Linked DNA regions of Homo sapiens: all the other regions are reported to be linked to region 1. Evidence: microRNA targets listed by miRTarBase, many of them from high-throughput screens and not tested one by one. Region 1 holds a microRNA gene; each other region holds the end of a gene's coding sequence.

Region 1 (4,311 bases):
ACTGCCATTTGGTTGGGCTTCAGAGAGATGTAAGCAGACACGGGGTCTGGGTGGAGGAGTAGTGCCAGCAAAGGCATGTGGACAATGCACGGGGTATGGAGGGTAATCTCTTAGACTAGACTAGCTCACACTTGGAGGGAGCAGGGGAGCATGATGCCTTGAATGACTTCCTAAGGAGTTAGGACTTCAACAACTGAGTTGCAGGGCCCCGTCTACACTGGGGTTCAGGACTTTAGAGGACAACCGAGCTGTCCTGCAGGGCTGCTGAGGGTTCTGCCCTTGTCCTTTCCCTGGAGGCTAACAAATCATTGCTTTGCATTCCATTCACATGGGATAGTTGTGCCATGAAAGGGGATGGAGAAAATCAAGGAAGACCTCCTGAAGGAGGTGGAGAGGTTAATCAGGAGCTGGAGGAACGCACTGCCCACTCAGCTCTGTGGTTTGAGTCTCCAAAGGTGGTCTAGAGCATGGCGAGGACCATCGGAACTTGGGTGAGCTAGGGAAGTTTTTACCTAGAGGTTGAGGGTCCCCTTTTATATGATGAACTGTGCTCTTGGAGTGTCCCATTTGCCATGCAGAACAAAACACTGCCCTTTATCTTGATGAAGAGATAGTTGACCACATAATGGCCAAAGCATGGTCAGTATTGTACATTTTGCCTTGTCGCAGTCTTTCCAAGTTGACATGGCCTTCCTGGAGGAATTACCACTTAGGGTAGAGGCACCCCTTCCCCCATCAATGCCACTGCCCCACATTGGAGGAGGGGTTGTTTATGTTCACCATGTGCCTGCTTCCAATGCCAAATCCAGCCTCAGAAAGCTTTCTGGAAGTGACGCCAACTTCAGGGGCAAGGCCCTGGTTCTGGGGTCAGCACCATTCCGTGGTTCCTGAAGAGATGGTAGACTATGGAACGTAGGCGTTATGATTTCTGACCTATGTAACATGGTCCACTAACTCTCAGTATCCAATCCATCCTCGGAGGGCTTCCTGGAGGTGTTGCCAACTTCAGGGAAGAGAACACGTGGTTTAGCTTCAGCACTGCTCCACGGCAATTTCTGTGGCTCATGGTTGATGTCTGACTTGTGCAACAAGGCCTGGCTCTTCTGGGCACTAAATGCACTCTCTGGGGAGTTTTCTGGAAGTGATGCAACTTGGGCTCAAGACACCGGTTCCAGCCTCAGCCGTGGTTCTGGAAGAGATGATTTGCCATGTGGCCTGTGCGAAAGGAGGGATTTGTGTGAGATGGGCTACCACTTCCCAGTAGCCTGCCAGCTTTGGAGGGCTTCGTGGAGCCAATACTACCTTCAGGGGGACCCACCAGTCCATCCTTCATTCCGCTGTGTGGCATTGAAGAGTTGCTTTCCTGTGTTGAAGTTTTCTGTTTATACCAATGTCCACCTCTGATCAATCTTACATTCAGTCTCAGGGTTTTCCGGAGGCAGTGCCAAGTCTGGGAATGAGACAGTGGTTCTGTCCTTAGGGAGGTGGTTGACCAAAACAACTCCTGCTTTGTTCATGAAGATGGCATGGTGGTTACTGCTCAGAATCTAATCCAACCTAAGAGGACCTCCTGGAAATGCCCTTGGTATTGAGGCAGATATGGCCTTAGGGCACTTTTTTTTTTTTTTTAATGCCCAAGACTAGAGCTCACTAATAGGTAAGATCTGGGCCTCAGGTGCCCAGTACTGTTTCCTTGGCCTGGTTAGTGTAACTAGATGGATGTTCTTTGGTTGCACGTGGGCCATTTTGTATTTCTGATTTTCTCCCCACTCCCCTAACCAGCTCTGTTAGCCATGTGCCATGTCCTCCCTCCCATCTACCCACTCCTTCAGACCCAGCACAGTGCGCCTGGCACACAGCAGGCACTTAATCAGTATTTATGGAGTGATGAAATCCATATCATCGTCCACTTCTTCTCAGTGGGACTTTCGGCCTCGAAGGGCTTCCTGGAGGAGTTGCCAGTTTTGGGGATGAGCCACTGCTTCGAGCATTCATGTCAACCCCCGACCATGAAGACGAGACTCCTGGCCTGTGTGTGCTTGTCGCATGATGCATGTGCTGTGCTCAACCTCCCTTCTGGTTCCACCCAGCTCAAGGCCTTGGAGGGCTTTCTGGATGTGTCCTGAGCCTTTGTCCTCGGCATCTCTGTGTGGTACTTGGAGAGATAGTAGACCGTATAGCGTACGCTTTATCTGTGACGTATGTAACACGGTCCACTAACCCTCAGTATCAAATCCATCCCCGAGGCTCCTGGAAACAACGCTGTCTTCGGGGAGGAACGGTTGGACCCACCACCACTTCTCCATGACACCCGAAGAGATGATTTTCTGTATGGCATGTGTTTTTCTGCATGATGCAAAATGGCATAATCTCGCTCCTCTTAAATCAAGTTCTGCCTTGGGAAATCGCGCCATCCCTGGGGAGGAGACCTTGATTCTTCCCGGAATCAGTGCCATTCCATGGTGCTCAATGACGTGGTTGACTACGCTACGCTTATTCAGTAGACACCGTGACCTGCTTCTTCTCAGCGTCAAATGCAGCCTAGAAGAAGCGCCCTCAGGCAACTTCGTGGACATGAGCCTTCTTCCAGCCACCACCACCACCATCGTGCGGTACTTGAAGAAATGGTTTACCGTCCCACATACATTTTGAATATGTATGTGGGATGGTAAACCGCTTCTTGGTATCCAGCCCAGCCATCCAAACCTCCCTGGAGAAAGCCTGGAGTTAGAGGAGAGCCACGGGTCTCGGCATCCGCCATGCCATGGCACTTGGTGGAATGGTAGACTCTTAGATGTGTGCTTTCTCTGTCAATGCTTGTGATGCGGTCTTCTCCTCAGTGCCAAACACAGCCTCCAGTGACTTCCTCAGGACAAGGATGACCTCCAGGAAGGTGTCCTACTGCCCACGTTGGCACATCCCTCTGGAGTAATTGAAGAAACGGTGGCTGGTGCCGCAAATGTTCATGAACGAGGGATGTGAAACAGGTCACCTCTCATCCTCAGAGCCCTCCTCAGATGACTTCAGGACAGTACGCCCATGTAGGAGCAGATATGGGTCCAGGAGATGATGCCACTCCAGGTACTTGAAGACGCACTGACTCGTTTTTGTCTTTGCTGATGCGTGTACAGTCTATCTTTTTTCCATCTCAAGTCTAGCCATCTCGGGGGAAGATGTCCCAGCTCTGGACTCAGCACTGATCCTCATGAAGAGCTGCTCGACCCCATCGTGTATGTTTACAGAGGAAGTGCCTCCATGGCCCACTTCTTCCCTATCTCCATCCCAGAACCCTTGCTTGGAGAACTTGCTGAAGAAGCTGCCAGCCTCAGGGACAGAGCACTGGTTCTGGCCTCTTCACTGACCTCACGGTACCTGAAAAGGGTTCAGCCACACTGCATGTCTTTTCCCCATGACGTATGTAACATGGTCTACTTCTTTTGAAGTATCCCATTCAGCCTGGAAAGTCTCCAGGGAGGTTATGTTAAGCTTAGGAGACAAAGCACCAGTTCTGGTACAAGTACTGCCTCGGGGTACTTAGTAGAAGTTGGCCATGCTTCATATGTTTTACTTACAACGCATGTTACTTCGTCCACCTTCCTATAACAGCGTGCACCTCGGGGGGCTTTCTGTAGGCAGGAACGAGTGTCAGTCATAGCACTAGTTCCAGCATCATCTCCATTCTTGAGGGGCTCCTTTGTGCTGCGTCCACTGCATCTGCGGCAGACATTGCATGGTGGCCTCTTCTCAATACTACATCAGGCCTCAGAGGGCTTCCTGGAGGTGATGCTAGTGAGAGGAAAGAGACACCGGCTCTGACCTCAGCCCTCTCCAAGGTACCTGAAAAGATGGTTGACCATAGAACATGCGCTATCTCTGTGTCGTATGTAATATGGTCCACATCTTCTCAATATCAAATTCAGTCATAGAGGGCTTCCCAGAGAGAGGCAAAGTCACCTTCGTGGGAGACACACTGATCTGGCTTCAGCGCCATTCCACAGTACTTGGAGAGATGGTAGAGCATAAAGCATATGCATTGTTGAATGACAGATGTAGCATGGTCCACTCATTCTCAGTATCAGCCAGCCCTGGGGCTTCCCGGAGGCCATGCCGACTTGAGAGCCAGGCCTGAGTGGTAGCCAGGGTGCAGTGCAGGTCACCGGGTGGTTGGCTGCAGACCCAGTCCTTTATTTATTACATTGGCCATTTGGTCCACCAGCCAAGAACTCAGTACCGGTCCCACCCTTACAGGGCATCCTGGAGGTGGTAGTGGCATTGGATGTGGGTTTGTGGTCATTGCCACATTGCCGGTGG
Region 2 (4,000 bases), not on the chromosome of region 1:
TTCTAAAAAGTGACACCTAGGTTTCCTCAACAGAAAGCTGTGCTTCAATCCCAAATCCCCTTGAGACCAACATGCCTTAAAGGGGGTTTGGGTTTAAAGACCAATGTATCTTTTTTTTTTTTTTTTTTTTTTTTTTTTTTTTTTTTTTTGAGACAGAGTTTCGCTCTCGTTGCCCAGGCTAGAATGCAATGGCGTGATCTCGGCTCACTGCAACCTCTGCCTACTAGGTTCAAGTGATTCTCCTTCCTCAGCCTTCCGAGTAGCTGGGATTACAGGTGCCTGCCACCATGTCCAGCTAATTTTTCTATCTTTAGTAGACATGGGGTTTCAGCATGTTAGTCAGGCTGGTCTTGAACTCCTGATCTCAGGTGATCCACCCATCTCAGCCTCCCAAAGTGCTGGGATTACAGGCGTGAGCCACTGCGCCCAGCCCCAATATGTCTTAAAGGGGGTTTGGGATTAAAGTACAGTTTTCCGCTGAGGAAACCTAAGGTCTTAAAGGGGTTTTGGGATCAAGTGTCCTGTTGAGGAAAACTAGGTGTCACCATGCATTAGTCTTCCCCGCATTACACAAAAGGCAGGTGTGTTCCCAGAAAAATTAAAGATGGTCTTACAAGAAGTACAAATGTGCCAACACCAGGACTTTGGGGACCCTGGTTCTGGCCCTGCCACTTGTTACTCTATTACTTTATTCCACATGTCATCTGTTACTTTGGAAAAACAAACCTGGGAGTAACACCTTACTGTCTGGTTCTCAAGTGGCTAAGTGGCTCTGAGCAAGTTTTAAATCCGGCATCGCAAGTACCCTTTGGAGAGGGATTTAGGGCCTGAGAAAGGCAGACTCCACCGAGTGTCTGTCCATCTGTCCGGACAGCACCATGTGGCTCAGCATGCAGGCCAGGCCGCGTGCCTGGGTTTGACTCCCATCGCCGGCCCCTGCTGTTAGTTCCGGACAGTTCCTTGGTGCCTGTGTGCTGGTTTTCTCGTCTGTAAGATGGGGTCGGACAGGCAGCTGCACATGGTAGGCGCTGTGTGTCGGCTATGAAACCACCAGCCCACCGCGTGCCCTGTTCACATGCCTTACAAATTGAGGGCTGATCTCTAAAATAGCATGATTTGTACACGTTTCTGTGACCAGCGAGCCCTTTCACACATCACTGTGACTGGTCCTCATGGTCACCCTGTGAGGGGGGCAGCATTTTTGCCATCTTACAGACGGGGAGCCCAGCTTGCTCTGAGCCATCCAGCAGTGCTGGCCAAGCCTCCGAGCTTGGCCAAATGCTGGCCCCAGAGGAGACAACCTTCTCCCGCCCCTCACCTCTGAGAACAGAGGGCGGGCCGCTGTGCTCCTCACAACCTGGACTGCCTCATCTTCCCACGGACGAGCTGTCAGGGCTGTGTTTCTCCCAAGATCCCCAGAACAACCAGGGGAAGAGTTCCTGAAGAAATGGGTGTATTTTAGCCACATGGACTCAAACTTGGAAGCAGCATTTGGCATCCCCGGAGAGCACTCAAATGGGGCTGGACCATGCTCGGGGCTCCCTGAGGCTCTGTCCCCACACTTTGGGGCATGACATGACCTGGCTCTGTGCTGCCCTAAGACATGGGTTTAGGAACATGAAATCGTGCAGAGCTGAGCTGTCAGGCCTGAGCAGACACTGCTGGGGGAGAGAGAAAGTTCACATCCCCCCACCAAGCACGGTCTCAGATTAGGTTATTACAAAGGGCGAGGGGGAGGAGGGCATCCCAGGAGTCTAACATCCAACCCGACCTATGCAGAATGACGGGTGACCACGCCCTGACCCAGCCACACACTTGAACCCTGGGACTTCAGTGAGGTAGGTGGTATCAGCCCCATTTCACAGGTGGGCAAACTGAGGCAGAATGAAATGCAATAGCTCGCTTTTAATAACAACATACAAAAGTCTGGAGAAAGCCCCAAAGTAGTCCCCTGTTCCCAGAGCCCAAAGAATAAACAGATGGGAGAACAAGACCCTCCTCTTCCTTTTCCCCCACAGAGAAGATCCCTAAACACATCACCGGAACCCCTCAAATATTCCTGGGAACTTCAAACAAAAAAACATAGCAACAAAGAGACCCAGCTTCCAGTTTATTCCCAGTTGGGTAGGGGACAGGCCTGCTCTCGGGGAGGGTACCGTGCATCCTTGCAGATGGAAACGCCTTCATGCTGGACCAGGCCGAGGGCAGGCCTGGGGCTGGGCAGCTGCTCACACGAACCAATGGGGGTGCCCATGTGAGCCTCTGAGCAACTCCTCTGCCTCAGTGAGCTGGTCTGAGAGATGGGACCAACACACGCCGTCAAAGGAAGTGAGTTCTAGGAAACCAGGGAAGATGAAAAGACACCCCCGCCCCCAGAAGACGGGGTCCCACCTAGAACCTTCCTGGGAGGATGCCAGCCCCACCCCACATCAGACACCCTTTGGCAGATATCCTGTTCTGCCTGGCTACCGAGGCCTCCCGACTACCCTCAGAATCCAAATTCTGCAGGTTCCTCCGTGCGAGGCCCAGCGTGGGATGTCCCAGGTTGGAGGTGTGCGTGTTGGCGGTGTTCTTTGGCTGGAAGCAAAAGGCCGTTCTGGCGGGATCGGGGCCGTCTGCTCAGCTGGAGGCCTTTCTGGAACTGGGCGTGGGTGAGGTATTCCCAGCCCAGGGCAAAGCCATCAAACTTCTCGTGTTCCCATCTCCTATTAGAACAAAGTGGTAAACTGGGGAGGATGAGCTGGGACTGACTCGGGTGCTGAAGTTCATCCGCACGGCATTCCAGAATCTTCCACCGGCTTTCCTCAAGAACATGTGGACAGTCCAATGCACTGAGTGCCCTGGCTGGGTGGTTCCGCCTGCTGCTGGGGGGACGTGAACATAGACCCGCCGCTCTGGCCCCGCTCTGGGCATCAGCTGCTCCTTCCGCTCTCTCTCATGGCCGCTCGGCATCTCTAGTCCTCTTTGGGTGCAGAGGGCTCTCCAGAGATGGGTGGGGGGCGATGGGCGGGGGGCACAGGGCGGAGCAGCGCCAGCAGGGGAGGGAAGAGGCACTTCAGTTTGGGCTGGTGTTCGTGGAGTCGGCCCCGGCCCCGGGAGTCGAGTGGCCTCGCCTGGCTGCGGCTCCAGCACTGGCGTGCCATCGCAGACCCCGGTGGCGGTGGACAGGTAGGCACTTGGCAGCACTCCGAGGGCTGGGCCCGGCCGGGGCTCTGCGCAGGCTCCGCACGCGGCTAGGTCATCAGGATGGGCTTCTGCCGAACTTCCAGGATGTCTAGGGCCGGCAGGAGGGAAGCAGGTGAAACAGTAACCCTCAACAGCGGTGAGTGCTATGGTCACGGCAGTGCCACTTCTGAAGGAAGCCCGCCTCAGCCACTCATGCATCTCCTCTCCAGGCCTCACAGACTGCAGAGGAGACGTGTCTCCACCATCCTCACCCTGCAGACTGGGAAATGGGCTCGCAGCAACGGCACACCCTGCAGGGCCTCAGGTGCAAGCTGGTGTGGGGGCCAGAGCCACTGCCTGTCACAGCTGCTGCAGGCCTGGGTCAGCGAGGTGGCCTGAGAGCCTCCCCTCGCCCGTGAGTAACACACACCTGGGCATCTGTGGCCACTCAAGAGGGGACAGCAGGTGCGCCAGAAAGGTGAACAAAGGGAGGACTTCAGCTCTGGGAAAGCTACGGCTCCACCCAAAGTCTGAGACAAAGAGGCCAAGAGCCCTGCAAAGAAACCCAACCAACCGACAGGACAGGGCGGGATGACTCCGGGTGGCTCACAAGTACCAAGGCCCTGGAGGCAGAGCTGGCTGTGAGAAGGTGCGGCTGCTTCCCCACATCCGCCAGCATTACCTGTTAAAATCCGATGCAGCGGCAACGTGACGTAGGTTAAGTGTGCATAGAGAAGGAAGTTTCCATCTGCTCTGTTCAGCTTCAGCCAGGACCCGACCAGGGACCGTCCTGTGCCCGACAGGGACCGAGACCGCAGGTTGGTTGCATTGTGCA
Region 3 (4,000 bases), not on the chromosome of region 1:
GACAGTGGGGCAGGGACAGAGCTCAGACTCGGGCCTGGGGCTCTTTGTGGAGCCTGCCAGATCCCCTGAGCTGACTGCCTCTCTCTGCCTCCCCTCCTGTCATTCAATCTCTGTCTCCTACTCATCTATCCCTACCTCCCAATCTCCTCCCTCCCCAACATTCATTGTCTTTCTGCCCATCATCTCTGTCCGCCACCTGTTTCCCCACCTCCCTGTGTCTCTCTTTATCTGCATATTTTCTGTCTCCCCCATATCTCTGACCCTGTCTGTACGTCTGTCTGCCTGCACATCTCTTTCCCCCACGTGTCTGCGTCTGTGCCCCCGCACTTCTCTTCCCATTTCCCCACCCTTCTTTCCTTTCCCATGAATGTCTCTCTGGCCCTCACATCTGCTTTCCTGTCTCCTCATATCTCTCCCCACATCTCTCTCTGTTTCCTGACACGCCCTCCTGCCACCTTTGCCTCCCTGTTCCTCACCGTTATCTGTCTGTCTCTCCCGCAACTTGCTTCGTAATGTTCCCCATCTCTACCACTTCTTTGCCTTAGACAACAGCCCAGACCCTTGGACCTGAGGAATCCCAAACCTTCACCATCATCTGTGGAGGGCCTGACATAGCCATGGTCCTTGCCCAGGACCCTGCACCTGCCACAGTGGATGCCAAGCCGGAGCTCCTGGACACTCGGATCCCCAGTGCATAAGGATCAAGACAGACAATGTCGAGGGACAAAAGATAGAAGATGGAGGAGGAAAGACATTATACGTGGGCTTGGCCCAGCCCCACCGCCCACGCCTGGGTAGTAGCAGTGCCTCCCTCAAGGGCCTGGGTTCTACCACCCCACTCCTAGGGATCTCTTGAACCTTAGGGGTGACCTGGGCCCAAGTCTCTCATCAGCCCCCAATCCCCTGGGTACCAGGCTTCTGCCACCCCCGGCTCAGATCTTTGCAAATCAGTACGACAGCCTCAGAGCAGAGCAAGGGTTGTTTGGGAGAATCATACCTGGTTCTAAGGAGTCCCACGCTTTTTGCCAAGCCTGGTACTGAGTTCATGATACCATGGTGGACACAGCTGAGAAAATCCCTGCCCTCATGGTGCTCATTCTACTTGAGTAGACGATGAACTAGTAAACAAATAAACAAGAACACTGCAGACATGAGCGATGAGTGCTATAAAGACAACAAAAATTTGGTTTGGGCCTGGGGGAGGGCCCTCCAAGGCCATGTTTTAGCAGAAACCTGGGTGATCAGAAGGGGCTGGCCTGGAGCGCTACAGGCTCAGGTTCCAGAGGACGAACAACCCCTGCAGTGAGGGCCTGCTGTCTGGGATGTGTCAGGTCTGGGAGGCGGTGTTGCTATGGAGAAAACCATAGTAGGGAAGGGAGGAAGGGGTGCAGTTTTAGAGCAGAGAAGGTGAAAAGACACCAACAAGTAAGATCCTAAAACAGGGCAGAGAGGGAGCCACGTAGGGATTTGGAGGAAGAGCATTCCGGGCATCACAAAGAGCCGTTGCAGGCCAGGCACGGTGGCTCACGCCTGTCGTCCCAGCACTTTGGGAAGCTGAGGCAGGCAGATAACCTAAGGTCAGGAGTTTGAGACCAGCCTGGCCAACATGGCGAAACCCCGTCCCTACTAAAAATACAAAAATTAGCTGGGTGTGGTGGCACAGGCCTGTAATCCCAGCTACTCGGGAGGCTGAGGCAGGAGAATCACTTGAACCTGGAAGACAGAGGTTGCAGTGAGCAGAGATCATGCCACTCCACTCCAGCCTGGGGAACAGTGAGACTGCCATCTCAAAAAAAAAAAAAAAAAAGAGCCAGTGCAAAGGTCCTGGGGTAGGGAGAAGCAAGGAGGCCAGTGTGGCTGGGGTGGAGTGAACAAAAGAGGGTGAGAGGAGGTGAGTGCAGAGATGATGGGGCAGGTTCACATAGGCCCTTGTGGGCCATGGCTGAGAGCCTTGGCTTCTACCTGGAGTGAGGTGCAGCAGGCAGACCCCTCTGAGGGAAAGAGGGCTCCAAAGTGACAGGTGTTCATGGGTCCCTGTGGCTGCATGTTGGAGGAGGACGGGGACAGCAGGTAAGAGGCTGCTGCCGTAGTGCTGGTGGCAGAAGAAGAAGGATGGACCAAGATGAGGGCCCAGGGTAGCGGTGGGGAGAGTGAGATCCTGGAAATCTTTTGGAGATGGAGCTACTGGACCTGTGCATTAGAAGGATGAGGTGTTCAAGGCTGTCACCCAGCCCCATCCAGGCTGGGATGATTTGAGGCAGAGCAGGCTACAGCTCCAGGTGGGAAGCCAAGCCATGACAATGGAGCCAGGACCCTGGGCTGGCTTCAGGAGGCCTCCGTGGGGAAGATACAGGTTCTGAGAGAGTTGGAGGGGTCAATCGGCAGATCTGTTTCCCAGACACTGCTACAGGCATGTAGCATGGTGATTAAGAATCAAAGCTGGGCATGGTGACTCGTGCCTGTAATCTCAGCGCTTTGGGTGGCAGGGGCAGGAGGATCCCTTGAGGTCAGGAGTTCAAGACCAGCCTGGGCAACATGGCAAAACCCTGTCTCAAAAAAAATTCTCCAGACATGGTGGCATGCACGTGTGGTCTCGGCTACTCGGGAGGTTGAGGTGGGAGGATGGCTTGAGCCCAGAAGTTTGACGCTGCAGTGAGCCAAGATCACAACACTGCACAGTAGCCTGGGTGACAGAGTGAGACCCTGTCTAGGAAATAATAAAAATAAAAATCAGACTTTACAGACTGTCTGGTTTCAAATGTTCGCTCCATCACCTACTCATGTACTTTTGGGCAAGCTGCTTAACCTCTGGGCCCCAGTGTGTGAGCCTCGCATTATGATGGTAAGGATGAGATGATCATGATAGGAGTCTCTAGGAAATCACCCCTCTGAGGCACCCATTATGAATGGTGAGCTTGGAGAAGGGGTCCGGTCTAGGGTCCTAGAGAGAGGGTCCCCTAGAGGGTCCCCATCGTCACCACGCCCCAAGACCACTGCCCTCACCGGCCTGGTTTGCAGGCGTGGGGGAAGGGGATGGAGAAGATCTGTGTCCGCTCTCTCAGCCCTCTCTTTTGCCGTTGTATCTGCTCATCTCGCTCCTTTCCGTAGCCATCTCTTCCTCTCCCAGTGCCCGGAGGCTCTCCCCTTTCAGTCGCCGCCTCTGGCCCCTCCATCAATGCGAGCGCCTCCCGGTCCCTCCTCCTGGTCCCTCCTCCCCCGCCGCCGGTAGGGGGGCAGCAGGCGCATGCGCAGTCGCGCCCCTCCCTCTCCGCCCCCACCCCCTGTCGGCGTCTGGGCCTCGTCCCCTTCTCTCTGTCTCCCTTGCCTCCCCCATCACGTCCCCTGACACCGACACCCCATTGCTCCCACAGTCTCCCCAGTCTCCACTTTGGTCCCCAGCGCTGTCTGCCCGAGGTAAGATGGGGAGGGGGCGGCCCGCGGAGAAGGGGAGGGGCGAAGCATCCTGAATCCCGAGATAAACAAACCCGGGGAGGGGGCAGCCGCGACTGAGGGGCCTGACGCGGGAGGAGAAGAATGGGGGGCTGGGCCTGGGGGAGGTGGCAGGCGCTGGGCGCACACACCGGGGCCCTCTATGGGTAACGGGGGTCCCTATGGTTGCCCAAGATCCAGTTGCGCGGAGGCCACCCGGGGCCCTGGAAGCTCCTAGGGGCTTGGACCCTGGAGCCTGCCGGGCACCCTCTCCAGCTGACCTCTGCCTCCAGGATTTGCCTGAAGGCTGCCCCCAACTCTGCACCCGCCCCCCGAGGGCCACCGAGGACCATGACTAAGACAGATCCTGCCCCGATGGCCCCGCCACCCCGAGGAGAGGAGGAAGAAGAGGAGGAGGAGGATGAACCCGTCCCCGAGGCCCCCAGCCCCACCCAGGAGCGCCGGCAGAAGCCTGTTGTGCACCCCTCGGCACCTGCCCCCCTCCCTAAGGACTACGGTAACCACTGTCCCCACCCTGGAATCTGGCCTGGAGCGTTGGGTGGCCGGGGAG

What was found. The annotated mature microRNA hsa-miR-411-5p reads UAGUAGACCGUAUAGCGUACG and lies in region 1 at 2,166-2,186, shown strand. An mRNA with a match to its seed (bases 2 to 7 or 8) in the 3' UTR can be bound and repressed. Matches are read on the target gene's strand: a 7mer-m8 pairs with bases 2 to 8, a 7mer-A1 pairs with bases 2 to 7 and ends in A, and an 8mer does both.
Region 2: miRTarBase lists KIAA0930 as a target of hsa-miR-411-5p. Seed matches in the 3' UTR shown: 8mer at 312-319.
Region 3: miRTarBase lists THAP8 as a target of hsa-miR-411-5p. The part of its 3' UTR that is shown has no 7-base or 8-base seed match.

What each region holds. Positions count from the first base shown.
Region 1 is chr14:101,021,175-101,025,485 of GRCh38, forward strand. MIR411 (microRNA 411) reads left to right here and starts at 2,151; the gene lies at 2,151-2,246. It overlaps LOC124903407 (mucin-2-like), which reads left to right. Exons shown (of 5, transcript XM_047432049.1): 5 at 1-4,311. It overlaps MIR379 (microRNA 379), which reads left to right and starts at 892; the gene lies at 892-958. It overlaps MIR299 (microRNA 299), which reads left to right and starts at 2,620; the gene lies at 2,620-2,682. It also overlaps MIR380.
Region 2 is chr22:45,193,943-45,197,942 of GRCh38, forward strand. KIAA0930 reads right to left here. Exons shown (of 10, transcript NM_001009880.2): 9 at 3,848-4,000; 10 at 1-3,274. The coding sequence ends at 3,234. Among named protein-coding and RNA genes, the nearest start is that of MIR1249, 5.1 kb to the right of the region's middle.
Region 3 is chr19:36,032,138-36,036,137 of GRCh38, reverse strand. It overlaps THAP8 (THAP domain containing 8), which reads left to right. Exons shown (of 4, transcript NM_152658.3): 4 at 546-1,154. The coding sequence ends at 698. CLIP3 (CAP-Gly domain containing linker protein 3) reads left to right here and starts at 3,265. Exons shown (of 14, transcript NM_015526.3): 1 at 3,265-3,414; 2 at 3,723-3,946. The coding sequence starts at 3,781. The region is part of intron 3 of LOC101927572 (a long non-coding RNA gene); the gene reads right to left. RefSeq lists a silencer at 366-539.